4 linked regions of the Homo sapiens genome follow. The protein of the gene in region 1 purifies or fractionates together with the protein of each later gene. This does not show direct contact. Each region holds a gene or a part of one and is shown in the gene's direction. Other genes may lie near its edges. The genes, in order: TFRC, VPS51, MARCHF8 and RAB11A.

Region 1 (7,025 bases):
AAAAAGATGAAAATCTTGCGTTGTATGTTGAAAATCAATTTCGTGAATTTAAACTCAGCAAAGTCTGGCGTGATCAACATTTTGTTAAGATTCAGGTCAAAGACAGGTATGTTGAAAGATGGTAAACTTATTTTTATACAAGTAGCTATTTTCAGGTGTGCTAAATATAGCAAAGACTTTTTGTTAGTGTTGTTGGCTTTTTTTTGAAATGGAGTCTCGCTCTGTTGCCCAGGCTGGAGTGCAGTGGCACAATCTCTGCTCACTGCAGCCTTTGCCTTCTGGGTTCAAGTGATTCTCCTGCCTTAGCCTCCAGAGCAGCTGGGATTACAGGCGCACGCCACCACGCCCAGCTAATTTTTGTATTTTTAGTAGAGGTGGGATGGTCTCGAACTTTTGACCTCAGGTGATCAGCCCGCCTGGGCCTCCCAAAGTGCTGGGATTACAGGCGTGAGCCACCGCATGCGGCCCAAAGGCTTTTAAAATAAAAATCAAGCTTAAGATTTAGAGGTAAATTTCCTCAAGCCAAATAATGCAAGACATACTAAATGTAAGCTATTGTGTTTTTTGGAAGGATGACCTTAGGCTTATTTTAACTTAATCTTTTTAACAGCGCTCAAAACTCGGTGATCATAGTTGATAAGAACGGTAGACTTGTTTACCTGGTGGAGAATCCTGGGGGTTATGTGGCGTATAGTAAGGCTGCAACAGTTACTGTAAGTAAAGCAAAACAGTGCATGAGACTCTTCCCTATTGAATCATTCAAAACTCATCTTTTCTGTTCTTAGGAGTTATAAATTTACCTGTAAAATGTAAATGATCATGAGATATTTTGGTTTTCAACCCTCTAATGACACAGTCAACATGCATTGTCTTCTCTCTCTAATCACTTTCCCCATGTCCTGTTTTATTTTTTCTTTATAGTACTGCTAGCAGCTGACATTATCTATGCCTTTGTTTCCATTAGAATGTGAGCCAGATGAAGAATCATGGGTTAGTTCTATTTACTGCCATGTTGCAGAGCTTTGGAGAATGCCTGACATACATAGTAGTATTTGCTAAACAAATGCATATCCTCCCTGTGGGGACAGATGTAAATATCCATCTTGGCTGGGGCCTAGTCTTAGCTTGATTCGTTAATGCTTGATCTTTTTCTATTTTTGTTTTGAGACAGGGTGTCACTCTGTTGCCCTAGCTGGAGTGCAGTGGCGTGAGCTTGGCTCACTGCATTCTCCACCACCACCCAGGCTCAAGTGAGCCTCTTGAGTAGCTGAGATGTCCAGTTAATTTTTATTTTTTATTTTATTATTATTATTATTATTATTATTATTATTATTTGGTAGAGACAGGGTTTTGCCATGTTGGCCAGGCTGGTCTTCAATTGAAACTCCTGGGCTCAGGTGATTCACCACCCTCAGCCTCCCAAAGTGCTGGGATTACAGGAGGAAGCTGCTTCGCCCAGCCCTTGATCTTTTTAAATTTAGGCAAATATAGTCAAATTAACACAGAAATAGAGAACAGATAGATAGAATAATTTTCAGCTTAAAAATCACATTTGTGGCTGGGCGTGGTGGCTCACGCCTGTAATCCCAGCACTTTGGGAGTCCAAGGTGGGTGGATCACCTAAGGTCAGAGCTACCAGCCTGGCCAACATGGTGAACTCTATTAAAAATACAAAAATTAGCCAGGCGTGGTGGTGGGTGCCTGTAATCCCAGCTACTTGGGAGGCTGGGGCAGGAGAATCGCTTGAAGCCAGGAGGTGGAGGTTGCAGTGAGCGGATATTGCGCCATTGCACTCCAGCCTGAGCAACAAAAGCGAAATTCCATCTCAAAAAAAAAAAAAAAATCACATTTGTAAGTCAGGCGTATCTCTAGTGGATACCTTTCGGGGCTGGTGCAGTTCTGTGTTGATTCCTTGCCTTTCTGGATACTTGTGCTTTATCCCTTTGCCTGGCTGCCTATAAGCCAGGAGTTTAGAGATGGGTAGGTTGTTCTGTTAAAGAACATTGAAGATTTTTGTTCAACTTCAAGCTTTCTGTATTGAGGGCTTGGTTGTTAGTGTCAGTTTATGGCTGTTCATCTGGACTCTTATGAGCTTAGGAACATCATGACACATCTAAAGTTGGTGTATGCAAGTCACTTTGTTGTAATAGATGGTGTTTTAATTTTGGGACAGATTTATTATCAGACCTTTCAGTTAAAACCTATTTCTATGATGTCCTCAAGGCTAAGATTGTTCCAGGCCTCCAGTCCCATGACCAGCCTACATAGGCCTCTTTAATCTAAATGCCCTTCAGATGAAAGGCAGCATGGGATAAAAGCATGAAAGACATAGGAGGCCAAAAATCTTGATTTTATTCCAATAGCTCTGACCTAAAAGTTGTAAAGTTTTTTAGAACTCATGTCTTTTTTAGGCCTTGGCCTCCTTTTATCTCTTACTTGGGTTGCCTGTCTTAGGTTTGATCTATAACACTCTTCTGTCTCAAGATTTTAGAGCTGTTCCGATACCATAATGCTCATTAAATCTAATGTCTTTGTTCTAGGGTAAACTGGTCCATGCTAATTTTGGTACTAAAAAAGATTTTGAGGATTTATACACTCCTGTGAATGGATCTATAGTGATTGTCAGAGCAGGGAAAATCACCTTTGCAGAAAAGGTGAGTATGAGTTATTATAATATTAAATACAGTACTTTTGGTATCTTACTCTTCAGGTAAGTGATATTTCTTGTTAATATTCTTACATTCTGAAAATCAGCAATCTTAAACTCTCATACCAGATAATATAATTTATTAAAATGCTCAACAAATGAAGTAAGTTCCACTTACCTAATCAGAAGTGCTTAAGTGAAAGCTATTTCTCTGTATAACTCAGTTTTACGCATATACAGAATTCAGCTAAAAGCATGTTTTATAAAAAGGAAAATTAATAGCCAAACATACACAAGGAACTAGAGTGGAACATATCAAAAGACAGTGGTGATTTCTGCATTTTTAAAAAAAGTGGCAGGGCTCACACCTGTAATCCCAACACTTTAGGAGGCTGAGGTGGGAGGACTGCTTGAGCCCTGGAGGTTGTGAGATGTGACTCGTGCCACTCCAGCCTGAGTGACAGTGAGACTCAAAAAAGTGGTTGTCTTAGATGGGTTTTTGTTATTTTTCTTTTCTTTTTTTTTTTTTTTTTTGAGACGGAGTCTCTTGTCACCCTGGCTGGAGTGCAGTGGCGTGATCTCAGCTCACTGCAACCTCCGCCTCCCAGGTTCAAGTGATGCTCCTGCCTCAGCCTTCTGAGTAGCTGGGATTACAGGTGCCCACCACCACCATGCCTGGCTAATTTTTGCATTTTTAGTAGAGACAGGGTTTCACGACGTTGGCCTGGCTGGTCTTGAACTCCTGACGTCAGGTGATCCACCTGCCTTGGCCTCCCAGATTGCTGGGATTACAGGTGTGAGCCACCACTCCTGGCCTTTGTTATTCTTTTTTTTTTTTTTTTTTTTTTTTTGAGAGGGAGTTTTGCTCTTTTGTCCAGGCTGGAGTGCAGTGGCGCAATTTTGGCTCACTGCAACCTCTGCCTTATGGTTTCAAGCGATTCTCCTGCCTCAGCTTCCCAAATAGCTGGGAATACAGGCGCCAGCCACTGCGCCCAGTTAATTTTTGTATTTTTAGTAGAGACAGGGTTTCACCATGTTGGCCAGGCTGGTCTCGAACTCCTGAGCTTGTGATCCCCCTGCCTCAGCCTTGCAAGGTGTTGGGATTACAGGCGTGAGCCACCACTCCTGGCCCGTTACTCTTATTTTGCAAACAAGTGAGTTAATTTTTCAGGAAGCAATTAATAAATTACCAGATAAACAATTTGAAATATTTGGAAGTATTATAAGTTTAGTCCTCTGTAACCATTTGGCCTTTAGCATAATGTCCAGGATGTATTCTCATTTCGTATGATCAGATCTTCATTTTCTGAGCTTTATATGTTTTCTTTTAGGTTGCAAATGCTGAAAGCTTAAATGCAATTGGTGTGTTGATATACATGGACCAGACTAAATTTCCCATTGTTAACGCAGAACTTTCATTCTTTGGACATGTGAGTTATTTCTTGAGTAAATCACCGTTTTGAGTTCCTTGAGTTGTTCTTGGATTCCTGTATTAGCAGAAATAGCACTGTGTCTTCCTTAACTGCTCTTTTTTCTGGGAGGGCGTTAGCAGTAAGCAAGAAGATAGATTACATTGACTTTGAGGCTTTATTATTTGTTGCTAAAAGTACTTTGTCAATAGTGCCTTGAATTTGAGAATTTCCATATGCCATGAAAACAGGAGTCACATTGTAGAGCCACTCAGATTTTTGAGGCTTCAAGTTGGTAAACTAAGGTTGGGCTGCAGCCTTATACCAAACCTGAATCTTACAGAGAAGTTTTGAGGAAGTATGTGATGGAGTGAATTGCTCTTTTGTTTTCCTAGGCTCATCTGGGGACAGGTGACCCTTACACACCTGGATTCCCTTCCTTCAATCACACTCAGTTTCCACCATCTCGGTCATCAGGATTGCCTAATATACCTGTCCAGACAATCTCCAGAGCTGCTGCAGAAAAGCTGTTTGGGTAAGTTTTTATTTGAAAGCGGTCTTGCATAGTGAGGTTTTATGATTAGGGAAGAACGGTAATATGTTGATTAAAATGTTAAACATGATGATAATTTTCCACATTTGGGAATTTGGAGGATGGTTAGCTGTTACCTTGGTACAGATATAAATGAATTTTTCTCTATAAAGAGATCTTAATAATGGACTTTGGACTTATAAACACAGGAGAATAAGGAGACTTATAAACCCAGTGAATTCCTTGTGCAAGATTCCTGGCATAGCTTCTGCTCAAGTACTTCTGTGCTGAAGCACGATGCCTATAGCAGCCCATTCAGTTAGTAGAGAGAATCTGTTAGAATTCATATTGGGATAAAATCCTATTCCCCGAAACATCCATTTGTCTGGATTTTTCTTCTAAGCAATACGGTATGATTCCAGTTACCTTGTCTATAGATTGAGAAGCCTTGCTTCTTATGATGGTTTCCAGAGAAACCATTTATGGTTGTGGCTCGCTCCTCTGGATATCCTCCCTGTAACGTTAGTGTCTCTCTTTAAAAACAGAGCCCAGTTCCATTAGAGTACGTAGCATTAATTTTGATTTGGATGTGGACATATTTATCATTTCCTGTTATTACAGGATGGAGATCTAGTTTCAGGCCTTTATGAAAGCATTTATCTCCTGTATGACATAGGTTCTCTGATCCTGTTTCTTTAACATAATTGGATAGTGAAAATATATTCTACTTGATAGTCTCAAATGAAGAACATCTGTATATAAGGAGTATATGAAATACCATGACTGTTGATCATGCTGAGAGGCCTTTAGCATAGGGGAGTGTGTAACATACCATGACTATTGATAACGCTAAGAGGCATTTAGCATAGGTGATTTTTTTGACTCATTCTACCTACCACCTACAAATCGTAACCAACCTGTGAAGCCAGCGTCCCATCTTATCCTTATGTAGTAGGGGAGTAATAATGTTTCAACCTATATTTATGTAAGTAAGCCCCCTTAGGAGCAGCTATTATTTGGGTAACACAGAGGAATTAGATAGGGGAAGCACAAGATTTTTTTTTTATTTTGACAGTCTCACTCTGTTGCCCAGGCAGGAGTGCAGTGGCATGATCCTGGCTCACTGCAACCTCCACCTCCTGGGTTCAAGGAATTCTGCCTCGGCCTTCCAAAGTGCTGGGATTACAGGCGTGAGCCACCGCACCCAGCTGAGGAATATTTTTTATAACTGAGCTAAGAATGTGTACTATCCTTGTTAGTGGTGACAGTTGGGAAACATAAAAGTGTATTAATATTCTTTTATATATTAGAAGAACTTCATTTTGAGTCCATCTTGGTATGTATTCCAAATATAAACTACGTAAGTATGTCTGGCAGAAAGGCGCATAGTTAGAGAAGTGTTTTAAAATATTGCTTAATTAATGGTTTCCAATTGGCTGCCTGCAGATCAAAGTAAGACGCAAATGGTTCACCACTAGAGAGTAAGTTTTTTTTTGTTTTTATTTTGTTTTGTTTTGTTTTGTTTTTTTTTGAGACAGGACTTGTGCTCTGTTGCCCAGGCTGGAGTGCAGTGGCGTGATCTCGGCTCACTGCAGCCTCCGCCTCCCAGGTTCAAGCGATTCTCCTCCTCATCCTCCTTAGTAGCTGGGATTACAGGCGCATGCCACCATGCCCAGTTAATTTTTGTATTTTTAGTAGAGTCGGGGTTTCACCATGTCGGTCAGGCTGGTCTTGAACTCCTGACCTTGTGATCCACCTGCCTCAGCCTCCCAAAGTGCTGGGATTACAGGGGTGAGCCACTTCGCCGGGCTGAGAGTAAGTTTTGTTTATATGTCCTCTTAATCTGTAACTTCACTGGACAGGAGTAAACCCTGGGCAAGGAACAATAACTCAGAACTTACGCCTGCTTTCTGATTCTAGGAATATGGAAGGAGACTGTCCCTCTGACTGGAAAACAGACTCTACATGTAGGATGGTAACCTCAGAAAGCAAGAATGTGAAGCTCACTGTGAGCAATGTGCTGAAAGAGATAAAAATTCTTAACATCTTTGGAGTTATTAAAGGCTTTGTAGAACCAGGTAAAGACCGCCCCCCCCCCCCCCCGCCCCGCTTTTTTTTTGTTTTCTTTTCTGTTCCTAAGGATGTGGCTAGAGAAGGAGCGAGTGTAGGAATGCTGGCTTGGCTTGGTTTTATGAAGTGCTCAATCTTGTCTGTCCTAAAGTTAATTGTTTATGTGTTAGTTTCTTTTTTTTTTTTTTGAGAAAGAGTTTCACTCTTGTTGCCCAGGCTGGAGTGCAGTGGTGTGATCTCGGCTCACTGCAATTTCCGCCTCCCAGGTTCAAGCCATTCTCCTGCCTCAGCCTCCCCAGTAGCTGGGATTACAGGCATGCGCCACCACGCCTGGCTAATTTTGTATTTTTAGTAGAGACAGGGTTTC
Region 2 (7,538 bases), on another chromosome or scaffold:
GACCAAGACTGTGTCTCAAAAAAAAACAAGAACAAAAACAAAATTAGCCGGGCATGGAGGCGCATGCCTGTAATCCCAGCTACTCGGGAGGCTGAGGCAGGAGAATCGCTTGAACCTAGGAGGTGGAGGTTGCGGTGAGCCGAGATTGTGCCATTGCACTGCAGCCTGGGCAACAAGATCAAAACTCCATCTCAAGAAAAAAAAAAAAAAAAAAATATATATATATATATATACACACACATATATGTATGTATGTATATATGAATATGTTCTTGTAAAATATTTGCATAATACACAAGCATGCAGAGGAAAATGTAACAGTCTCCCTGCTGCATCCCCACCACTGAAGTACCCCCTTCCCCAGTTTGGTGACTTGGCATCTTTTAGGTCCCTTCTTTATGTAACGGTAACTTCATACATCTAGATGTACATATACATGCATAAGTTTAAAGCATTTTTAAAAATCATATGTTTTGTCAAAGTGTACTTTTCAAAAAGTTAAAACCTACGTCTAAATATAGAATGAACACGTAACAAAGATTTATTAGGCCGGGTGCGGTGGCTCATGCCTGTAATCCCAGCACTTTGGGAGGCTGAGCTCCCAAAGTGAGCCTGAGAGGATCACTTGAGCTCAGGAGTTTGAGACCAGCCTGGGCAACATAGTGAAACCTCCTCACTACTAAAAATTAAAAAAAAATAAAATTAGCTGGTTGTGGTGGCCCTTGCCTGTAGTACCCCCTACTTGGGAGGCTGAGGCGGGAGGGTCATTTGAGCCCAGGAATTCGAGCCCTGCTTGCATCTTTGCAGTCCGGCCTGGGGGCATAGTGAGACCTTGTCTCAAAAAAAAAAAAAAAAAAAAAAAGATCTTTAACTCATCAGTGAGGGGATTTCCGCTTGGTAAGGTGGTAATGCACATGAGGAACTGGACAGGACGAGCATTTAAAGAGGAACGTTAGGCCAGGTGCAGTGGCTCATGCCTGTAATCCTAGCACTTTGGGAGGCCGAGGTGGGCGGATCACCTGAGGTCAGGAGTTCGAGACCAGCCTGGCTAACATAGTGAAACCCTGTCTCTACTAAAAATACAAAAAAACTAGCTGGGCATGGTGGTGTGCACCTGTAATCTCAGCTACTCGGGAGGCTGAGGCAGGAGAATCACTTGAACCTAGGAGGCAGAGGTTGCAGTGAGCTGAGATCGCGCCATTGTACTTCAGCCTGGGTGACAGAGCAAGTCTCAAATAAAATAAAATACAATAAAGAAGAATGTTAGCATATGATTACTAGGTTAGATGCAAAATGCAATGGATGTCCTACATGACAAAAATTATACCCTTTGAGGTTAGTTTTTCTACTGGATATACATGTCTTTCATCTCTCCTGGACAATATCTCCTTGTAATTTCAGTCTATTTACCTTACTAGTGAATAGCAAAATCAAACAACTGTGTATTCTTGTGGGTAAATAATCCTTGGGAGGGCTTCTGAAACGATGCCCCAGTGTGACAATGAGAGGACACACTACACTCTTGGACTTCCAATTTTTGGATTTTTCCTTTTTTTTTTTTTTTTTTTTTTTGAGACGGAGTTTTGCTCTTGTTGCCCAGGCTGGAGTGCAATGCCACAATCTCAGCTCACCGCAACCTCGGCCTCCCGGGTTCAAGCAATTCTCCTGCCTTAGCCTCCCGAGTAGCTGGGATTACAGGCATGCGCCACCAAGCCCAGCTAATCTTGTATTTTTAGTAGAGACGGGGGTTTCTCCATGTTGGTCAGGCTGGTCTCGAACTCCCGACCTCAGGTGATCCACCCACCTTGGCCTCCCAAAGTGCTGGGATTACAGGCGTGAGTCACTGCGCCCAGCCTAATTTTGTATTTTTAGTAGAGACTGGGTTTCTCCATGTTGGTCAGGCTGGTCTTGGACTCCCAACCTCAGGTGATATGCCCACCTTGGCCTCCCAAATTGCTGAGATTATAGGCGTAAGCCACCACGCCCTGCCTGGATGATTTGTCTTAACACTATTCTCCAACTTTTAAAAATGTTTATAGACTTCTTGGAGTAGACCTCAATCTATACCCTTTTTCATTTTCTTAAGATTATAGCTTCATAGGCTGAAATCAAGTATTTTAAATGGTTTCTAGACATCCCATTGATTCAGAGGTCAGCAAACTTTTCCCGTAAAATAGTAAATATTTTAGGTTTGGAGGACCATGCAGTCTCTGTGGTAGCTACTCAACTCTGCTCTGTGTTTTTTTTGTTGTTGTTTGTTTGGGGTTTTTTTTTGTTTGTTTTTGAGATGGAGTTTTGCTCTTGTCACCCAGGCTGGAGTGCAATGGCATGATCTTGACTCACTGCAACCTCTGCCTCCTGGGTTCAAGCGATTCTCCTGCCTCAGCCTCCCAAGTAGCTGGGACTACAGGCGCCCGCCACCAGGCCCGGCTAAGTTTTTGTATTTTTAGTAGAGATGGGGTTTCACCATGTTAGCCAGGCTGGTCTCGAACTCCTGACCTCGGGTAATCTGCCTGCTTTGGCCTCCCAAAGTGCTGGGATTACAGGCATGAGCCACCGTGCCTAGCCTCAACTAAGCAGCCATAGATCATATGTTAAAAAATGGGCGTGACTGTGTTCCAATAAGAGTTACGGAAAATGGGATATGAATTGCATATGATTTTCAGGTGTCATGAAATGTTATTTTTTTCCCAACCATTTACAAATGAGAAAACCATTCTAGCTCACAGACCATATGAAAACAGGTGGTGAGCTGTGTTTGGCCTGCAGGATCCCTGGCAAAGAACAAGTAAACCAGTGAGTTTTTCCATTCCAACCTTCCTCCAACAGCCCTTCATAAGTAATGTTTCAAGGGCCACTTTGATGAAGAAAGTCTTTTTCTCTTTTTCCTCCATTCCAACTCTGTGTCCTAATCTGAACTCCAGATCGTTCCCTGTCTTCATGAGCTCTTCACCTTTGTGCACAGCTGCACTTTTGTCCAAGTCAGAACCCTGGGAGAGCAGCTCAGGAGGCTGAGGTGGGAGGGGAGGTCAAGGTTGGAGTGAGCCAAAGATAGCACCACTGCACTCCAGCCTGGATGAAGAGCAAAACCCAGTCTCAAAAAAAAAGGAAAAGAGAACCCTGAGAGTTATCCTCCACATTTCCACCTAACCCTTCACTCAGCACATTCCATCAGTCACTTAAGCTCTGCTGAGTCTGTCCTTTTTTTTTCAATAATAGGGGGCGGGTCTCACTACGTTGTCCAGGCCAGTATTGACCTCCTGGGCTCAATCAATTCTCCCACCTCTGCCTTCCAAAGTGCTGGGATTACAGGCGTGAGCCACTGTGCCCGGCCTTAGGGGTTCTTAAATGTGAGTGTGTATCAGAACTACTTGGGAACTTTCTAAAAAGAAGCTAGATCTGAGAGAATCCCAGAGTCTTTTTTTTTTTTTCTTGCTTTGTTGCCCAGGCTGGAGTGCAGTGGCACCATCGCAGCTCAAGCAGTTCCCCCACCTCAGCCTCCCGAGTAGCTGGGACCACAGGCGTGCGCCATCATCCTGGCTAATTTTTGTTTTGTTTTTTTTGAGACAGAGTCTCGCTCTGTCATCCAGGCTGGAGTGCAGTGGCGAGATCTAGGCTCACTGCAACCTCTGCCTACCGGGTTCAAGCGATTCTTCTGCCTCAGTCTCCGAGTAGCTGGGACTACAGGCGCGCGCTACCACACCCGGCTAATTTTTGTATTTTTAGTAGAGACGGGTGTTTCACCATATTGGCCAGGCTGGTCTCCAACTCCTGACCTTGTGATCCGCGCCCCCACCCCCCCGGCCTCCCTAAGTGCTGGGATTACAGGCGTGTGCCACCGCGCCTGGCCTGTATTTTTTTTTTATAGAGACGGAGTTTCGCCATTTTGCCCAGGCTGGTCTCGAACTCCTGGGCTCAAGCGATCCACCCGCCTCGACCTCCCCAGTGCTGGGATTACGGGAGTGCCCGGCGCAGCTCAGCGCAGAGACTTACAATGCGCCACAGATAGTCCTGAAGGCAATTCTGATGCACGTCAGAGGACCAGGCCCTAAGAAGAACTGCGCTAGAGGCGTGGTACAGAATAGTGTACATGCATTTAATCCTCGTAGCCCCCCTGTGAAGTATGTACCCCAATTTTAGGAATGGGATAAACTGAGCCACTGCCAGTGGCAGGATCCCAGGAACACTCTACTCTGGCCTCACGTCCCGCATCCGTCCATTGCATCTGGGCACATATTCCGTGGGCCCCTTGCCTGCGAGAGTGCAGGTTGGGGAGCCACTACCCGTCCCCCTTCTGGGACAGCAGCAACCCCAGGCAGTTCCACAAAATGCTTCCACCCAGGAAACTGGGGGAATTCAGGGCTCTCCCGGAACCTTTGCACCCGGGGAAGACAGGTGCGGGGGAACTCTAGTCTCGAAGGACCTAGGGCTGCAGGGGGACGTTTCACCTGAAGGACTGCCTCGTTTCAACAACAACTTTATGGCTCCCGGAAGTGCCTCCTCCCCGTCCCCTTCCTTTCCAGCCTCACGCCCGTGGGCTGCAGTTGGAACGATGGCGGCGGCAGCTGCCGCCGGGCCTAGCCCGGGGTCTGGACCTGGGGACTCCCCAGAAGGGCCCGAGGGGGAGGCTCCGGAGCGTCGGCGGAAGGCGCACGGGATGCTGAAGCTTTACTACGGCCTCTCGGAAGGGGAGGCGGCGGGACGCCCCGCGGGGCCCGACCCCCTGGACCCGACTGATCTGAACGGGGCGCACTTCGACCCGGAAGTTTACCTAGACAAGGTGTGTGCGCACGGGGAGTGGGGGGGTGCGGGGAGGGGGGAAGGGAACCAGGCCCCTGCTATATTGCTCCCCCAGATCATGCCTCCGACTTTTTGTGAGGTTCAGGAGAGCAGGTGTTCATAAGAGGACGAACCTCGGCCAGGGAGTACGAGCAGCTGAGGCGTCTGAGGGGATGTGAGTAGGACTGGACTGGCCTGAGGTGATGCGGCATCTGAGGTCTTCTGGGCTGATGTGATAGGCCCGGAATTGGGGGCGTGGCCCAAGCGTTGACAGGCGCGGGGCTGGGCTTAGGCCGAGCCCCAGGATTTCAAATGCTGACAAACACCAAACACGGTTGAACCTAGTAACCCCTGAGCTAGGCCACTTAGGGCCCCCTGCCTGGGATTCCTGACAGCCGGCGGGGGTTTGCGGGGTGGGTGGGGATCAGAGATTTCTTGCCCTGAAAGCCTATCAGCTGCAGGCAAGGCTGGGGGACATGAATGCCTCCTGACCCGAACACTAACCACCCAACTTCTTCAGCTGCGTAGAGAGTGCCCTCTGGCCCAGTTGATGGACAGTGAGACGGACATGGTGCGGCAGATCCGGGCTCTAGACAGCGACATGCAGACCCTGGTCTATGAGAACTACAACAAGTTCATCTCAGCCACAGGTGATCCCCACGGGGACACACCCTCCAAAGTCTCACAGCCCCCATTCTCCCACCTGTGTTGGGAAAACCAGCAAGGGATTTAGAGGGGGGAGACTCAGATTCCAGTCTTGTCCTGACATTATTCCATTCTCACCTCCTTTCCTTTGAGCCTTCGTTGTCAGACTACTATAGAGATAATAGCTACTCTCAGAGGGTTGTCTTAAGTACCAAAGGAGAGAAAAGACAAAAGGAGATTAGTTGTTTATTTTTTAGAGACAATGTCTTGTTCTGTCTCCCAGGCTGGAGGGCAGTAGCATGATCATGGCTCACTGCAGCCTCGACATCCCAGGCTCATGTGATCCTTCTGGATCCTACCAAAGCACTGGGATTACGGGTGTGAGTCCCTGGCCCAGCCCAAAATGAAATTTTAAAATGAAATGTATTTATCTGAAGCACTTAAAAGGCCAGGCATGGTGGCTCATGCCTGTAATCCCAGCACTTTGGGAGGCTGAAGTGGGAGGATCACTTGAGCCTAAGAGTTTAAGATTGACCTGGGAAATATAGTGGGACTCCATCTCTACAAAAAAATAAAAAATAAAAATTAGCTGGACAAGATGGCGTATGCCTGTAGTCCCAGCTACTCAGGAGACTGAGGAGGGAGGATCACATGAGCCTGGGAGGTCGAGGCTGCAGTGAGCTGTGCTTGTACCACTTCACTTCAACTTGGGCAACAGAGCAAGACCCTGTCTCAAAAAAAAGAAAGTATCTATCTGAAGAAGCATCCCAGACACTAGGCTGGGCACAGTGGCTCATGCCTGTAATCCCAGCACTTTGGGAGGCCGAGGCAGGTGGATCACCTGAGGTCAGGAGTTCGAGACCAGCCTGGCCAATATGGTGAAACCCCATCTCTACTAAAAATAAAAAAATTAGCTGGGTGTGGTGGCAGGCACCTGTAATCCCAGCTACTCAGGAGGCTGAGTGGGAGAATCACTTGAACCTGGGAGGTGGAGGCTGCGGTGAGCCAAGATCACGTCACTGCACTCCAGCCTAGGCAGCAGAGCAAGACTCTGTCTGAAAAAAAAAATAATAAGAAGAAGAATCCCTGACATCAAGGAAACCTCAGTAAGGTGTAGTTTCTCTTATTATTGATAGCTTTCTTTTCTGCTCCAGGGAAGAATAGGTGGTCTTGTCCCTCCCTTTCTTTCTCCCTTCCTTCCCTCCTTAACTAAGCAAAGAGAGAAGATGTATGATATTAGGGGACACAAAGATCATGTCGAGGCTTTTTTTTTCTTCTGTCCTCTTTATTCTCTAGTGCCAGACAGTGTTCCACTGTTTTCCACACTAGCTTCTGTGCTGTTTTGAGGAGATGTACTACTCAGACTTTTGTAGTAATTGTACACCCACGTGTAGTAAGTCCAGGAGCCAGATCCAAAGGGTTTACCTGCAGCCTGTGGAATGTTCTGGGAGCATCTGTGGGGTTGCATTCTGATGTCTTACTCTCGTGTCACAGTGGTGGGTGTGGTAACCTATACACATTGTTCTTTTATCTGATTTGAAGCAGATTCCATGAGTAGGCACCTTTCTGTTAGCTAATACCAGCATCAAAATGGCAAGAAATCATAGTTTCTGTGCTGGGATATTTCTCACAGGAATTTAATAAGATTACATTTTCCATTTGTTGGAATGTGTATAATAATATTTTGAGACTTAGCTCTTTTTGTACATCCCACAAAAGGAACAAACGTTTGGAAAAGTGTGAGGATAACCAGGAGCATTGATGTCTTAGAAGCTTAAGTGAGGGGCCGGGCATGGGGTTCTCACCCGTGATCCCAGCACTTTGGGAGGCTGAGGTGGGTGGATCACTTGAGGCTAGGAGTTCAAGACCAGCCTGGCCAACATGGTGAAACCCTGTCTCTACTAAAAATACAAAAATTAGCTGGGCAAGGTGGTGCATGCCTGTAGTCCAAGCTACTCATGAGGCTGAGGCAGGAGAATTGCTTGAACCCAGGAGGTGGAGGTTGCGTGAGGAAGGTGTTTCAAGACATAGATTTGATAGACTTGGGCGAGACACTCAGGAAAGTAATGTAGCATGGAGTGTGTGTTGATTGGGCAAGAGAGAGAGAAAAATGA
Region 3 (7,025 bases), on another chromosome or scaffold:
CCTATTGGATTAGAGTCCACTAGGATTAGAGTCACCTCCTGAGTAGCCGGGACTACTATTGACCTCATGTAAACTTAATTACATCTTTAAAGTCCCTATTCCAAATAGTTATATTCTGAGGAAGAAGGAGTTTAGGACATCAACATCTAAATTTTCACAGAAGGGAGGGGAATACACAGTTTAGCCCATGATAGTTGTGTATCAGGGAGGTCAACCTAAAGGCAAAAAGGCCAGGTGGGATGTTATTCTTCAAGAATTCTAGCTGAGAAATGAAGAGAATCTAAACTAAAGCATTGTCAATAAAAATGAAAATGAGTTGTGATTGAGAGGAGGAAGAATTTGATACAAGACTATGTGACTGAATGTGGAGGGGCATGAGAGGAAGGAGGCTGGCATGGCTCCCAGATTTCCCTGCTCCAGGAGGAGAAACTGAGTTGAAGGAGATGTGAGCTGTGTGATATCCCGATTGAGTATTCAGCACTTTGTTAGCCAGACACCCCAGGACTGGTCAGCTGTCCTACTTTCTTCACTCTTTCGCCGTGACTCCTCATAATGTGGACTGTGTCACATACAACTGAGCATGCAGCCTCTCCACTTGAAATGTGTCTTAAGACACTTATCACCATCTGAACTTTCACGTGAAATGTGACTTAAGACACTTATTACCATCTTATTTTGACAGTGAATTCTAAACTCTTATTTTTTCCTGATAATAAAAAATTAAATCTCTTAAATAAAATGTTAAATCCTTTAGGACAGGGACTATTGTGTATTCATTTTGCCCAAATGTGCAATATTTACTGCCTGGCTACATACATCTAGTATATAGTAGGTTGTGCTTTGCAAATTCTAGTTCAGGGAATGATTTGTCAGTAGGGTTGTTGTGATCAATTACTTGTTCTTTGCATATTTTAATCAAAGATTGATAATTAAAACCTGTTTGATTTTCTTGCAGAATGAGAAGACTTTGGGACATTTCATGAGTCATTCAAGCAACATTTCTAAGGTAGAGTGCCACTGAAAAATGTTATTTATTACCTTGAGTCTTTTCTGTTCTTATGCCTTACATGTGTTTATACTCTTTTTTTTTTTTTTGAAAAGACGTTAGAGTTCTTGATACATTTCTGTAATCTGTTCTGGGACCATAAGAGGTATGTGGCAGTTACATTTTTCTGGTAAGGCAATTTTGAGTGTGTGTTGGGGGAAGTGACTTCTGGGAGAAAATTCCATTTTTTCCAGAAAACCATATACTTTAAGGCAGAAGAAATCTCAGGCACAGGAGAGTCTGTTGCCACAATTAGGAATATATTTGACTGAAAGTAACAGAAAGCTAACTATGATGACTTACATAATTATGGATTTATATGGTTCATTTGACAAGGTGTCTGGAAGCAGGTGATCCAGGGCAGAGTTGATCACAGATTGTAGTGCACCCGATTCTGTGGCTGTTCGGGGTGCCACTGTGTAACCCGCATGGACCTAGGGGAACTGAACAAGGGGTGAAGGCGGGAATAAAAGACAAGAGACAAAAGAGTATATTTGGAAGAAGGAGGCATCTTGGCTCTAGTGGACAAGGGCCCTGAGCTTTACACAGCCCTCCATATTTATTAGGCAAAAGAGATAGTGAGAAGGCGGGTGGAAGAAGGGGTCAGCTGCTCAGTCTAGAGTAGGCTTGCAAGACTGCATTCCTTGAACAAAAGGTTCTAGATGTTGCAGTAGAGAACCTTGGCGCCAGGGAGTGATTGCCTCCAGCAAACCTTCTGTTGGCAGGAGCAGTCGGCCGGAGCAGTCGTGAGTTTGCTCATATCCTGCATTCATGATGAACGGTTTGCTGTTTGATCATATAGTCTCCAGGGGAATGCTGAGTTGGTCACGTCCCATGGGTCTTCGGCTCCCTGTAACAGATGTTGCCAGGGACCCAGGCTCTTTCCTCTCTGTGCTATCTCCTACTTGACACATGGTCTCACGATGAGAGCTGGACCTTCAGGCATTGCGGTTGTGGCCTTGGCAGGAATTAGAGGACTGATCAAGGATTAACAGGTCTGTTAGCTGAGAGTCACCATTTTCAGCAGGAAGGCAAAAGTTGTCCCACAAGTCCCACCTGGCCGCCTGAAATCTGCTTACATCTCCCTGGCCAGAACTGGATCACAGGCCACCTCTAGCTGGAAGGCAGCTAGGGAAAGGAGGGCTTGGGAAGTGAATCAGCCATCCAACAGCATCTCCTCACCTGTGGTGTGGTCTTTTTAGCGCACCAGGAGCACACTGGCTGCTAGGGTATGGCCTGGGAACCAGCAGAGTGTATCTGATGCAGTGAGCTTGCTTCCAGGCAGTGCTCCTCTCTCAGCCCACACATTGACTCTGGCCAACCCCTTCGCCATACAGTTAAGGCCATGAAAGTTCTTTGTAAGGGTGGACCTTTTCCCCATGTTTTTGGCATATGGCCAAACACACCACAGATTCAGCTGGGAGGATTTGAACAAGTGACAAAGTCTATCTGCTGTCTCAGGCCTCCTAGATACTCTGAAATGAACAGTTACATTATATGCCATTTTAATGTGCTGACTACATATATGTTTTCATTCAGGTCACCTTATTTTTTTAAGACTAAAAGTAAACTCTGGCAAACCTTCTTAAGACATTTGTCTGTTCTTAGGCATATTTGTAATCTAATTATATTATTCTTCCGCTTAATTTTGCGTTAAAAATAGGAATGCCTTTCACAAAATATTTTTTCCCATCCAACCTCCATTTCTTTTCTTTTGCTGTCCCTTTGGCCAGGAATGCTGCAGTGCTAGAACTATGCAGTGGTAAACCATTGCTGCCCATTTTTGCACCTTTTAAAGGAGCTAATCAGTGTCTAAGCACGGAGAAAAGTGAGAAGGTGCAGCTGCAGATGGCCTGTTTGCTTAAGTTGAATTAAATGTGTTAAAAAACGCTCAGTAACACATGTATGTCGCCTTGCCCTAGTAGCCAAGGGCAGTTCTGAAGGAGGACATCCTATGCTTTAAATATGTACCTGTTCATTCATGGATTTCAGTCACATTTTATTTAAAGGAAACTTCTTCCTATAGTTAAAAAAAACTGTTTGCAAACCACCATCTTAAAAAGTCTAGAGGAAAGGCTATTGTCCTGGCTTGGGTTGTGGGTATTTTGAGCTTTGTAAGGGTTTTGGAATTAACATGGATGATGGTTTACTAGCCATGTGATTTTGAAAAAGGACATCTCTCTGAGCTTTAATTTAGTTATCAGTAAAAGTAGGGTAAGCCAGGCGTGGTGGCTCACACCTGTAATCGCAGCAATTTGGGAGGCTGAAGCGGGCGGATCACCTGAGGTCAGGAGTTTGAGACCAGCCTGGCCAACATGATGAAACCCCATCTTTACTAAAATTCCAAAAAAATAGCCAGGCGTGGTGGTGCACACCTGCAGTCCCAGCTGCTTGGGAGGCTGAGGCAGGAGAATCGCTTGAACCTGGGAGGCGGAGGTTGCAGTGAGCTAAGATCACACCATTGCACTCCAGCTTAGGCAACAAGAGCAAAACTCCGTCTCAAAAAAAAAAAAAAAAAAAAAAGTAGGGTAATAATACAACCTTCAGGGTTGTTCCGAGTCTTGGGATTAACATTTGCATGGAACCATGGGGCAGCTCACCCATTACACTGAGCCAACAAACCTGACTCTTGTCAAAGTTCGTTGAATCCTGGTGACCTTAGGTTGATTGGGCCAGGACAGTTCATTTAATGGTAGCTTTATTATTTATTGCTGAACAATGGAGAACCATACATTATTTTTTCCTTCTTGCATACATTTTTTTTTAGACAGAGTCTCGCTCCGTAGCCCAGGCTGGAGTGCCGTGGTGCAATCTTGGCTCACTGCAACCTCCGCCTCCTGGATTTAAGCAATTCTCCTGCCTCAGCCTCCTGAGTAGCTGGGATTACAGGTGCGTGCCACCACGCCCAGCTAATTTTTGTATTTTTAGTAGAGACAGGGTTTCACTATGTTGATCAGGCTGGCCTCAAACTCCTGACCTCCTGATCCACCCGCCTTGGCCTCCCAAAGTGCTAGGATTACAGGCGTGAGCCACCGTGCCCGGCCCCTTCTTGAATACATTTTTACTGTGTGCTGTTTGCGACTGGACACTTAGTGTGTCCAGTGAGTTCCGGGATGCTTACTATGGTCATTGGAGAGTATCTGAGTGGAGTGAGCCTTTAGAACATTTGATTACTCACAGAACTTCCTGGTTAACCTGTCAACGTGAAATTCTGTTGCAAAGTGTACCCTTTTGTAACGAAGATAGTTAGCATGCTGTATAAGGTGGTTAGACATGAACCAGTTCAGTGGGACCAAGGAAGGGAGGGCAGGCCCCCTGTGGAAGATAACTGTTTTTGAGAAGACAGTTTTTTTATTGGAGTATTTATTAAATGAACCTGCTGTTTGAAGCCAGTTTTAGGCCGTGACATGTAAAATCGTATCTTCAGTATAGCAGACATACTCTTGAGATTAAAGGAGGCCACAATGTGGACATACTGTATGCTACCTGAAATCCCCGTTGTCTCTGTCAGGAGACTTTCTGCTGACTTTTAGACCCCAGCTGGGGTCAGCACATGAGCCAGTCACTGCAGTCTGCTTTATGCTTCTGCAGTTCACCTCTTGCTGGCGTAAATTTAGAGGTTGAAAAGAGGTAAAAAATAAACCTTTAATCATGCCTCCTAGTATTCCATCTAGATTTTATTACAAAGTGTCTCAGTGTGTATTGGAAGCATATTGACTTTAAAAACCAGGCTCCATTTTCAAAGAAGGAAGCAGGTAGGTTGGATGAGATGTTTATGAGGCTGCTAGGTCTGTGGTGGCTTGCCTCTCTTCAAAGTGGGCAGCTGGATTTGATCCCCTTAAGGAGTTAATAGAAGAAGCATATTGGGATATTTAAGCAATTACAATGGCAAAGTCTTCACCCAATACTTATTTTGTATTGATAGTACAATGTTAATGGATATCATTTGTTGAGCCTCTGTTACCAAGGGATTTCATGAAATTTGTCACCTCCAATTAACATCCTAAGGGGTCCAAAGTCACCTTTTCCTTTTATTTTTCAGGATCGCACTTATCACTGCCTGGGTTTTCATGAATTTTTTTCCATTGCACCTTCACCCCACATGTAACCTTCATGAGTGTAGAGCCATGCTTTGTTTACCCCTAAATCTGCAGAACCAGTGATGGGATGGAGCCCTGGAGGTTGTCAGTACATGCTGAGTCAATGTTTGCATGCTGTTCTGCTAGACACTTGATACCCAGCCCATTGGTTCATCCCTCTTCATCATCCCAGCCACTTCCCAGGCCCAGGCCTCCTAAACTCCTGCAGTAGCTTCTCAAGAATCTATCCCAAACCATCTAGCACCCAGTAGCCAGTAAGTAGAATTCCTAATGCTTCTCTTTTCAATTCTTCAGTGTTTCTGATTACACTACCTTGAGCTGTCACATCTAAGGTGACCTGGGCCTGGCCACTTGGAACCTGATCCTGTGCAATATCCCCTTGGTCATGATGATCTAGGTATGGTGTCTACCTTGATGATTTTCAAACAAGCCAAATTCCTATTTGCGCACCTTTTGTTCTGTCCGAGAGGCCTCTCCCAATCTTACCCCTTTTTTGCATGAATGGCTAAAATTCCTAACTCATTTCTCTTTCAGTTCTTAGCTTCTTTAGAGGCACTTACCCTTGACACCCTCCCCTTAGTCTAAATTTTATCACCCATTTGGGTTTTGTTACTCTTTCTTCATAGCACCTATCACAGTTTGTAATGATAGCAGTGTGTAGAAAATCTTATATTTTTAGAAGCAGCAGAATGTCCCCCCTTGGAAAAAAATCTGTTTAATTGACTGGGTGCTTGGAGAAGTTTGAGGCAGTTTGAGTCCCACAGGTGACATGCTTTATACAAAGACGGGCACTGGAATGCAGCCCCCATGAAATCGCCATGCATCTTGCCCAGACCTTCACCTCACCGCAGGGTCCTTGACCATGTGGGCCCACGAGCCATCCTGGAGGATGTTCCCCAGATGCCCCATCCACACTCAGTCCTCACCCTATGTACTTCCCTTGCTGCTGTTTGCTTAATCATTTTCTAAAGAACAAACTCAAAGTTTTATATCATTGTGTAGTATCTGAAATCACATTTGATTGGTTTTCTTTTTTTAGTTTATTTGTACATATTTATGGGGTACCTCTGATATTTTGTTACATGCATAGACTATGTAATGATCAAGTCAGGGTATTTGGGGTGTCCCTCACTGTGAATATTTATCATGTCTATGTGTCAGAAACAATTTAAACCTCTCTTCTAGTTATTTTGAAGTATATAATATATTGTTAACTGTAGTCACCCTACTCTGTTGTTATTGAACATTAGAACTTATTGTGACTATCTAACTGTATTTTTGTACCCATTAACCAATCTCTCTTTATCCCCCACTCCTGCCTCCATGCACACCCTTCCCAGCCTCTAGTACCTATAATTCTACTTTCTACCTCCATGAGATCAAATTTTTATAGCTCCCACATGTGAGTGAGAACATGTAATATTTGTCTTTCTGTGTCTGGCTAATGACCTCCATCCATGTTGCTGCAGATGACATGATTTCATTCTTTTTGTATGGCTGAATAGTATTTCATTGTGTATATGTGTCACGAATTCTTTACCTGTTTGTCCATTGATGTGGACACTTAGGCTGATTCCATATCTTTTGCGAACAGTGCTACAATAAACATGGGAGTACAGATATCTCTTTGATAATACTAATTTGTTTTCCTCTGGGGAAATACTCTGTAGTGAGATTGCTGGATTATATAGTAGTTCTATTTTTAGTTTTTTGAGGAATTCCCATACTATTTTTCATACTGGTTGTACTAATTTGCATTCCCACCAACAATACATAAGAGTTCCCTTTTCTCTGCATCCTCACCAACATCTGTTATTCCCTGATGATTAGGGATGCTGAGCAGTTTTTCATGCAGCTGTCGGTCATTTACATGTCTTTTT
Region 4 (7,025 bases), on another chromosome or scaffold:
TGAGACCTGCATCTCTACTTATATAAAGAAGTAAATAAAGTAAGTAAATAAATAAAGTGTAAACAGAATGGTGCCCTTACTGTCCCAGAAGTTGAGGAGGTCTTAAGTTTTAAAAAGTTCTGTTATTTTTCCTTTTGAGGGCTTGAGTATATCCTATTCCTTGTTTTAAAACTTAACAAGACTGAACTTTTGTGTCTCCCCTCAGAAAAGAATGGTTTGTCATTCATTGAAACTTCGGCCCTAGACTCTACAAATGTAGAAGCTGCTTTTCAGACAATTTTAACAGGTAAGACTTGTATTTTCAGATTACACCAGTAGGACTAGAAGTTTTAGGAAGGTAATTTAAACAAACTAATCAGTAACTAAACTATATATCAGCCGAGAGTGACTATCATTTGAGAGCTACTCTAGCAAAAGCTGTTTAGAGTGCAAAATTAACTACAACCCTTGCTCACTGAGCTTCAGTTGTCCTAATTCATCTGATTTATAGTGGGAAAAATACTTTGAAAATAATTCATTCACTTCCATTATTACTTCAGTCCAGGTATTCCATTCTTCATGGTCACAAAGTAATGTTTAAATGTACTTTTATGAGGTAAATATTGAGATCCCAGCTATAGAAAGATATAAATGCCCTTTTTTAAATTTAGTAAAGGCAAAGCTAGGGAAAAAACATTTTTAAAAATTATAGCGACAAAATAAAATTCTCCCATGATACAGAAGAAGGGTATCCCTTGCGTATTCTATATTGTATCATGGGAGATAATTGGTAGATAAAATCAGCCAATGATTGCATATAGAAAAGTTTTAAAAAGTAGTTGGAAAGAGATGGAGTTCATGCTGTTTTGGAATGTGAATGACCAGGTCAGCCTCTGAGATAAGAAGTGTTCACTCATATTTATCCTGAAACTATTAGAATAACCAGATTTATTAGTAAGATTAGTCTTAATCTTCTAATTAGTACTTTGATGGGTTGTTTTTAAATACTTTTAAATTGTATGTTACTTTTAAGAACTCATGATTTAAAATGTGGTCTTAATATATAGTATAGTTTTACGTGGCATTGTTCTAAAAAGTCTATACAGAGATATGATTGAGTTTCCAATTATAATGTAACAAGTTTTGATTTATTGTTTGTATGCAGCCCCTGTATTAGAGATTAACAGATTTTAACTTTAACATGTTATCTTCTTTTACTGTAAAAATGTAAGCGTAAAGTCAAGGAGTTAAGATTTGGAAGCCTGACTTGGGTTCTAGTCCTGGCTCCTCCACTTACTGTTAGTTGTACAATCTTAGGCAAGTTACCTAACCCTTTTAGGCCTTAATTTCTCCATCTATAAAATTCATATATATTTTGAGGAGTTTTGTTATTTCTTTTTTGAGAGAAGGCTTATATTTATAAAATCTTGTGATAGGATTTGACTTGACTTTTGTGACCTAAAGGTTTTTTGTCTCAGTAACCCTTAGCAAAGAATGGTCTGTCACTGCCCTAGACTTCAAAAATGAGTACCTGTAAAGTACCCATTTTGAATACTGTAAATTACTTATCTATCCCTGGTATATAGAGAACAGTTGGCAAATTAGTAGCTGAACGGCAATTAAGGCATGAGAAAATTGGAGATTTATGTACCTATTTTATTATAATTCTTTTCTGTTATCAGAAGAATAGTGCTGGGGTTGGATAAGCAGTCTTTGGAACACAGTAGCTTTCCTTTAGAATGTTCTCTGTCAAAGTTTCACTGCAGATTGTTTTAAGCAAGCAAGATTTGATTAAATATGTAGTATGTCTGCAAGTCCTTGTTTTCTTTATAGCCATTTGTGTACATTTTATTAAGTCAACATGTAGAGTACTAGATTGAGACCCAGGAGTTCTAGGGCATTACATTTTTATCACTTTGCTTCTACTCCCCGTTTAACTAAAGTCACTGAACCTCCCTGCTCCTCAGAGTCATAGTCTTAAAACATGTGAATTAAATTACCTTAAAGATGTGTGAGCATTTTAAGGCCTCAGAAAGTCTCATCTGAAAAAACTTTTTAGACAGTCCTCATTGTTGGAATATTTTTTATGTTCCATCAAATCTCCTCTGCTGTAATTCTGGCCCATTTATTCTGATATTAAGTGAAGATGAGCCCAAGTCTTCCATCTGCAGTTAACTATTTTATGCATCATTTTGTAACATTGAGCTTCTGATCCACTCAAACATGAACTAGTCGGTACTTAAAATTGAGCCCTTTAAGAGCTGGGCATGTTGATGCACGCCTGTAATCCCAGCATTTTGGGAGGCTGAGGCAGGCGGATCGCTTGAGCTCAAACATCCTAACACCTGTAGAACAACACAGATGTCTGCTGCCACATGCAGTGATCTCAAAAGTTCAAGACCAGCCTGGGCAACATGGTAAAACCCTGTCTCTAAAAAAAAAAAAAAAAAAAAAAAACACAAAAAAATTAGCCAGGCATGGTAGTGTGTGCGCCTGTAGTCCCAGCTGAGGTGGGAGGATTGCTTGAGCCTGGGAGGTTTAGGCTGCAATGAGCCGAGATCATGCCACTGCACTCCAGCCTTGTGGGCAGAGTGAGATCCTGTCTCAAAAAGAAAAAAAAAGATGAACATATAGTTGCTTTTCTTAAAATTCACTCTAGATTGAACTTTTGTTACAGCTTAATTGTTGCTTGAAAGCAAAGAAGACTTTAGTTTCACTTGCTACCACTTTTCCTTTCTATATTCACTGTTTCCTCAGCTTCCTGCATAAATCTCACTGTTGGTCTGTAGGATCAGAGATCACTGCATGTGGCAGCAGACATCTGTGTTGTTCTGCAGGTGTTAGGATGTTTGTTCTAAACTTTCTTCCTCCTGTATGCCAGTGGAAGTGTGAATGCATAGAGAAAACAGTGAAGAGGACAGACTCTTTATTGCACTTGATTCTACCTTAAATGTTAACAGTCTTAAGGGAGTATTTACGTTGTGTTTTGATATTGCTGAAAGAAAAAATAGCTTTAAAATTTCTAAAAATTGAGATGGAGCCCAGTCTGGTCTTGAATTCCTGAGCTCAAGCCATCTGCTTGCCTTGGCCTCCCAAAGTGCTGGGATTATAGGCATGAGCCACCATGCCTGGCCAAAAATTTTAAGTTGTAAAATTATATATCAGAAAATTTACATTGTTACTTCAGAGTTAATTGTGTTGTTGGTTTCAGAATAGACCCATGGCATTCTTGACACCCATGAATTTGAAAGTGACTCCATGAGATGATTTTGCTGATGGTATTTTTTTAGAGGTAGTTTACTAGTATGAGAGTGAGACTGGTAGATTGCTCCGCCTCTGAATTTCAGTACAGCTTTGTCTTTTCTCAGGTTCACTAAAGGATGTTTTTAATACATACCTTTTACTTTTTTATTTTAACTTTGCATTTTGACAATTTCAAATTTAAAGAGGTTGAAATAATAGTAAAAAGAATTTGCAAATATCCTTCACCCATATTCCTCAGATGTTAATATTTTACCACATCTGCTTTGTCCTTTTCTTTCTCTTCGCTCTAAATATATACATATTTTTTCGGCACCATGTGAGATTAAGTGGCAGACATGATGACCCTCATCCTTGAGTACTTTTCAGTGTATATTTTGTAAAAACAAGGATATTCTCTTTTATAGCCACAGTATAATTATCAAAATCAGAGAGTTAGATAATAGTGCCACATCAGTGTTTAATTACAGACCTTATTCAGATTTTGCCAGTTGTTCCAATAATACCCTTATTAGCCAAAGAAAGTCCAAGATCAGGTCATGCGTTTCATTCAGCAGTCATATCTCTTTAGTCTCCTCTAATCTCGAACAGTTCCTCAATCTTTTGTTTATTGACCTTGACATTTTTGAAGGGTACAGTCCAGTTATTTTGTTGTGTACCTCATTTTGGGCTTTTCTGATTTCTTTCCTCATGATTAAACTCAAGTTATACACTTTTGGCAGGAACACCACAGAAGTGTTCTCAGTGCATCATATCAGCAGGTTTGTGATAATTGGATGTCCTATTAATTACTAGTGATGTTAACTTTGACCACTTGGTTAAGGTGATGTCTGCTAGGTTTCTCCATGTAATTAATATGTCCAGGATATCTTTTTAGCATGAACACTAAATTCTTTTTTTTTTCCCCTGAGTCTTGTTCTGCCAGGCAAGACTCTGCCTCCTAGGTTCAAGCAATTCTCGTGTCTCAGCCTCCCGGGTAGCTGGGATCATAGGCCTGAGCCACCATGCTCTCTAATTTTGTATTTTAAGTAGAGACCGGTTTTACCATGTTGGCCAGGCTGGTCTCTAACTCCTGGCCTCACGTGATTCGCCTGGCCTCCTAAAGTGCTGAGATTACAGGTGTGAGCCACCGCCCCTGGCCTTATTCTGCTTTTGGTATGTCAGAAAATTTCCATAAAAAAAAAGTTAGAGATGTATTAACTGAATTACTACATTTTCCAAAATTAAGAACTAATTTCTCAGAAGTTGAAAAACAGTAAGCTGTAGTCAACTGAATATGTAAACTAACAAAAACAGACAGCAAGTGTATCTTTTCTTAGATTCTTTTGTGGGGGAAGGGGAGTGGCTAAAATTTATGTCTGAGAAGGTTGACAGTGGTTCAAATGTGAAGAGGCATTAAGGAAAGACAACTAGGATTCAATAAAGACAGGCTACTAAAATTAAAATTAAAAAAAAAAAGGATATGGAATCTTTATTTAGATTTTGTTTCAATGAAAAAGGATGGGATGGGAGGGTGCCAAGGCTAAAGAAAAGGATTTACCTTTCAGTCATTCAATCAGATGAGTGGCTAAGGAATAAAGATAATTAACTTGCATCTTTAAGCTTTCCCTCTAGTCTCAAACTGGGAGGCTCTTCTTTTTCAAGTGTAAATTATGTGTGTAAATTAAGATGAAATATGTAACCCACTGTAAGTTTTAACTTCCTTATAAATTGTTTTGAAGATTAAATTAGGGGAACCAAAACAAAGAAAAGTTCTTACATAAAAAACAAATATATGTAAAACTGGAAGAGAGGGAAAGGCAGACTTCTCAAAGAACATAGAGAAGTAAATAATTAAAGAGATCTCATTACAAAGCAAGAAATTTGAGCAGTGTTGGTGTGTTACAAGTACAGCATACTGTTTTTTAGAAATAGATTACTGCTGCACTTACTCCAGTTACCAAAAAGGATGTCTGCTAATAAAAATGCCACCAAAGCAATAAAGAGTGATTGGCTTTAAGAGGTTCCACAAGTAATTTACATACTTAAGTCTCTTGTGGCTGGGTGTGTCATTAAAAAAAAAAAAAAACCAAACCAAAAACCTGATAAGAAAGTAGGAAGCAGGTAACTTCTAGCTGTCTGATTAGAGAAGGTTATTTCATTGGGAGTTTTGTGGGGGTGGGGGGGTATGCTAAACTAGATCTATTTCCTTCTTTCAAAGGCATGTTCTCCTTTAGAACCAAATGAATATACCAATTCCTATGCAGTCGCCCCCACCGTTTTTTTTTTTTTTTGGAGACAGGGTCTCACACTGTCCCCAGGCTGGAGTGCAGTGGTGCAGTCTCAACCTCACTGCTCACTGAGTGAGACTCTGTCTCAAAAAAAAAGGCATTCTCCTACATAATCACAATACCATATGTCGTATCCAAGAAATTTAACATTTATACAGTTTTTTTTTTTTTTTTTTGAGACAGTGTGCTCTGTTGCCCAGGCTGGAGTGCAGTGGTGCTATCTCACTACAACCTCCCCTCCGGGACAAGCGATTCTCCTGCCTCAGCTTCCCAAGTAGCTGAGACTACAGGCGGGTGCCACCCCACCTGGCTAATTTTTTTTTTGTATTTTTAGTAGAGACGGGGTTTCACCATGTTTGCCAAGATGGTCTTGATCTCCTGACCTCGTGATCCGCCCGCCTTGGACTCCTAAAGTGCTGGGATTACAGGCGTGAGCCACCTCGCTTGGCCCATTTATACAGTTTTTAATGTGCAATCCATATTCATATTTCTTCAGTATACTAATAATGTCCTTTGTAGATTTGTTTTTTAATTAAAAAATTCAAGATCCATTTAAAGATCACATGTATAGGAGCCAAGGGAAGTGTCCCTATTGCCCTCTGAAGGTTTGCTGAAAGCTATCTGATACAGCTTTGGACCTTTCACGAGGTCCAAACGATAGGTAGAGGTTAGGAAGAAAAAGAATCCTGCTTTATCATTTTTATATCATTTAGATTTCTCTTGTAGGAGATCTAAATAGAAACCTCTGAAAGTTTGCTGGAAAATCAACTCACAAAAGGCATTTTAATTGGAGAAAAGGCATACGAAATTTATTAACATGTACACTGTACACTGGTTTTCTCTGGGGAGAACCAGAGAGATGACCCACCTCCCAATGGCATTCAGAGGCTTATGCCATTCTGGCAAAACAGGTTATGGGAAGGAGGAGAAAAGGAATTCTGTTGAGGGGATTACTGGGGAGGATGAACGGATCAGTGGACAGAAATTAATTGGTACATTATCTCGTGAAAGAGTCTGTTTAAGTGTGGTTACATTCTTGATCTTACAGGGAGGGGAAGAAAAAACAATTGTCCCTTTTAGTGGGTCTGGATCTCAGGCAGATGAAGGAACTTCAGCTTCATCCTGTGCCAGGGAGAGAGGATGAGGGGGAGAAGGTCAGAGAGACCTTGAGGCTTCTTTAGTTCAGCATATCAAAACGCCATTTTGGAGTATGGGTTTCTGAGCCTTAACAGATGGAATTGTTTTGTATCTGGGATGTTGAATAAAGTAGCCACAGGTTACTATTGAGCACTTGAAATGTGGCTAGTTAGATGAGGAATTGGATTTTAAATTTTATTTAATTAAAATAGATGGCTACTCTCTTGGATAGCACAAATTTAGAACATTTATCCCCATCTCAGTCTGGATTTATCTCATTATTTCCTCATGATTAAATTAGTTTTAAATATTTTTGTCAGGAATACATGGTGTCCTTTATAGGAATACATTGTGTCTTTCCTAGTACATCGTATTAGG

What was found.
Region 2: the proteins of TFRC (region 1) and VPS51 purify together in Homo sapiens (affinity purification with mass spectrometry; 2 studies listed by BioGRID and IntAct, with this or other methods). This does not show direct contact.
Region 3: the proteins of TFRC (region 1) and MARCHF8 purify together in Homo sapiens (affinity purification with western blotting; 4 studies listed by BioGRID, with this or other methods). This does not show direct contact.
Region 4: the proteins of TFRC (region 1) and RAB11A purify together in Homo sapiens (affinity purification with western blotting; 2 studies listed by BioGRID and IntAct, with this or other methods). This does not show direct contact.

The regions. Positions count from the first base shown.
Region 1 is NC_000003.12:196,065,084-196,072,108, reverse strand, and holds part of TFRC (transferrin receptor protein 1), read left to right. Parts: coding exon 1-106; intron 107-610; coding exon 611-713; intron 714-2,540; coding exon 2,541-2,654; intron 2,655-3,978; coding exon 3,979-4,077; intron 4,078-4,451; coding exon 4,452-4,591; intron 4,592-6,508; coding exon 6,509-6,666; intron 6,667-7,025. UniProt on the Homo sapiens protein: Cellular uptake of iron occurs via receptor-mediated endocytosis of ligand-occupied transferrin receptor into specialized endosomes. Endosomal acidification leads to iron release.
Region 2 is NC_000011.10:65,091,699-65,099,236, forward strand, and holds the start of VPS51 (vacuolar protein sorting-associated protein 51 homolog), read left to right. Parts: upstream 1-4,515; 5' UTR 4,516-4,552; coding exon 4,553-4,780; intron 4,781-5,299; coding exon 5,300-5,429; intron 5,430-7,538. UniProt on the Homo sapiens protein: Acts as a component of the GARP complex that is involved in retrograde transport from early and late endosomes to the trans-Golgi network (TGN).
Region 3 is NC_000010.11:45,483,348-45,490,372, reverse strand, and holds part of MARCHF8 (E3 ubiquitin-protein ligase MARCHF8), read left to right. Parts: intron 1-955; coding exon 956-1,006; intron 1,007-7,025. UniProt on the Homo sapiens protein: E3 ubiquitin-protein ligase that plays several important roles in innate immunity and adaptive immunity.
Region 4 is NC_000015.10:65,879,466-65,886,490, forward strand, and holds part of RAB11A (ras-related protein Rab-11A), read left to right. Parts: intron 1-205; coding exon 206-286; intron 287-7,025. UniProt on the Homo sapiens protein: The small GTPases Rab are key regulators of intracellular membrane trafficking, from the formation of transport vesicles to their fusion with membranes.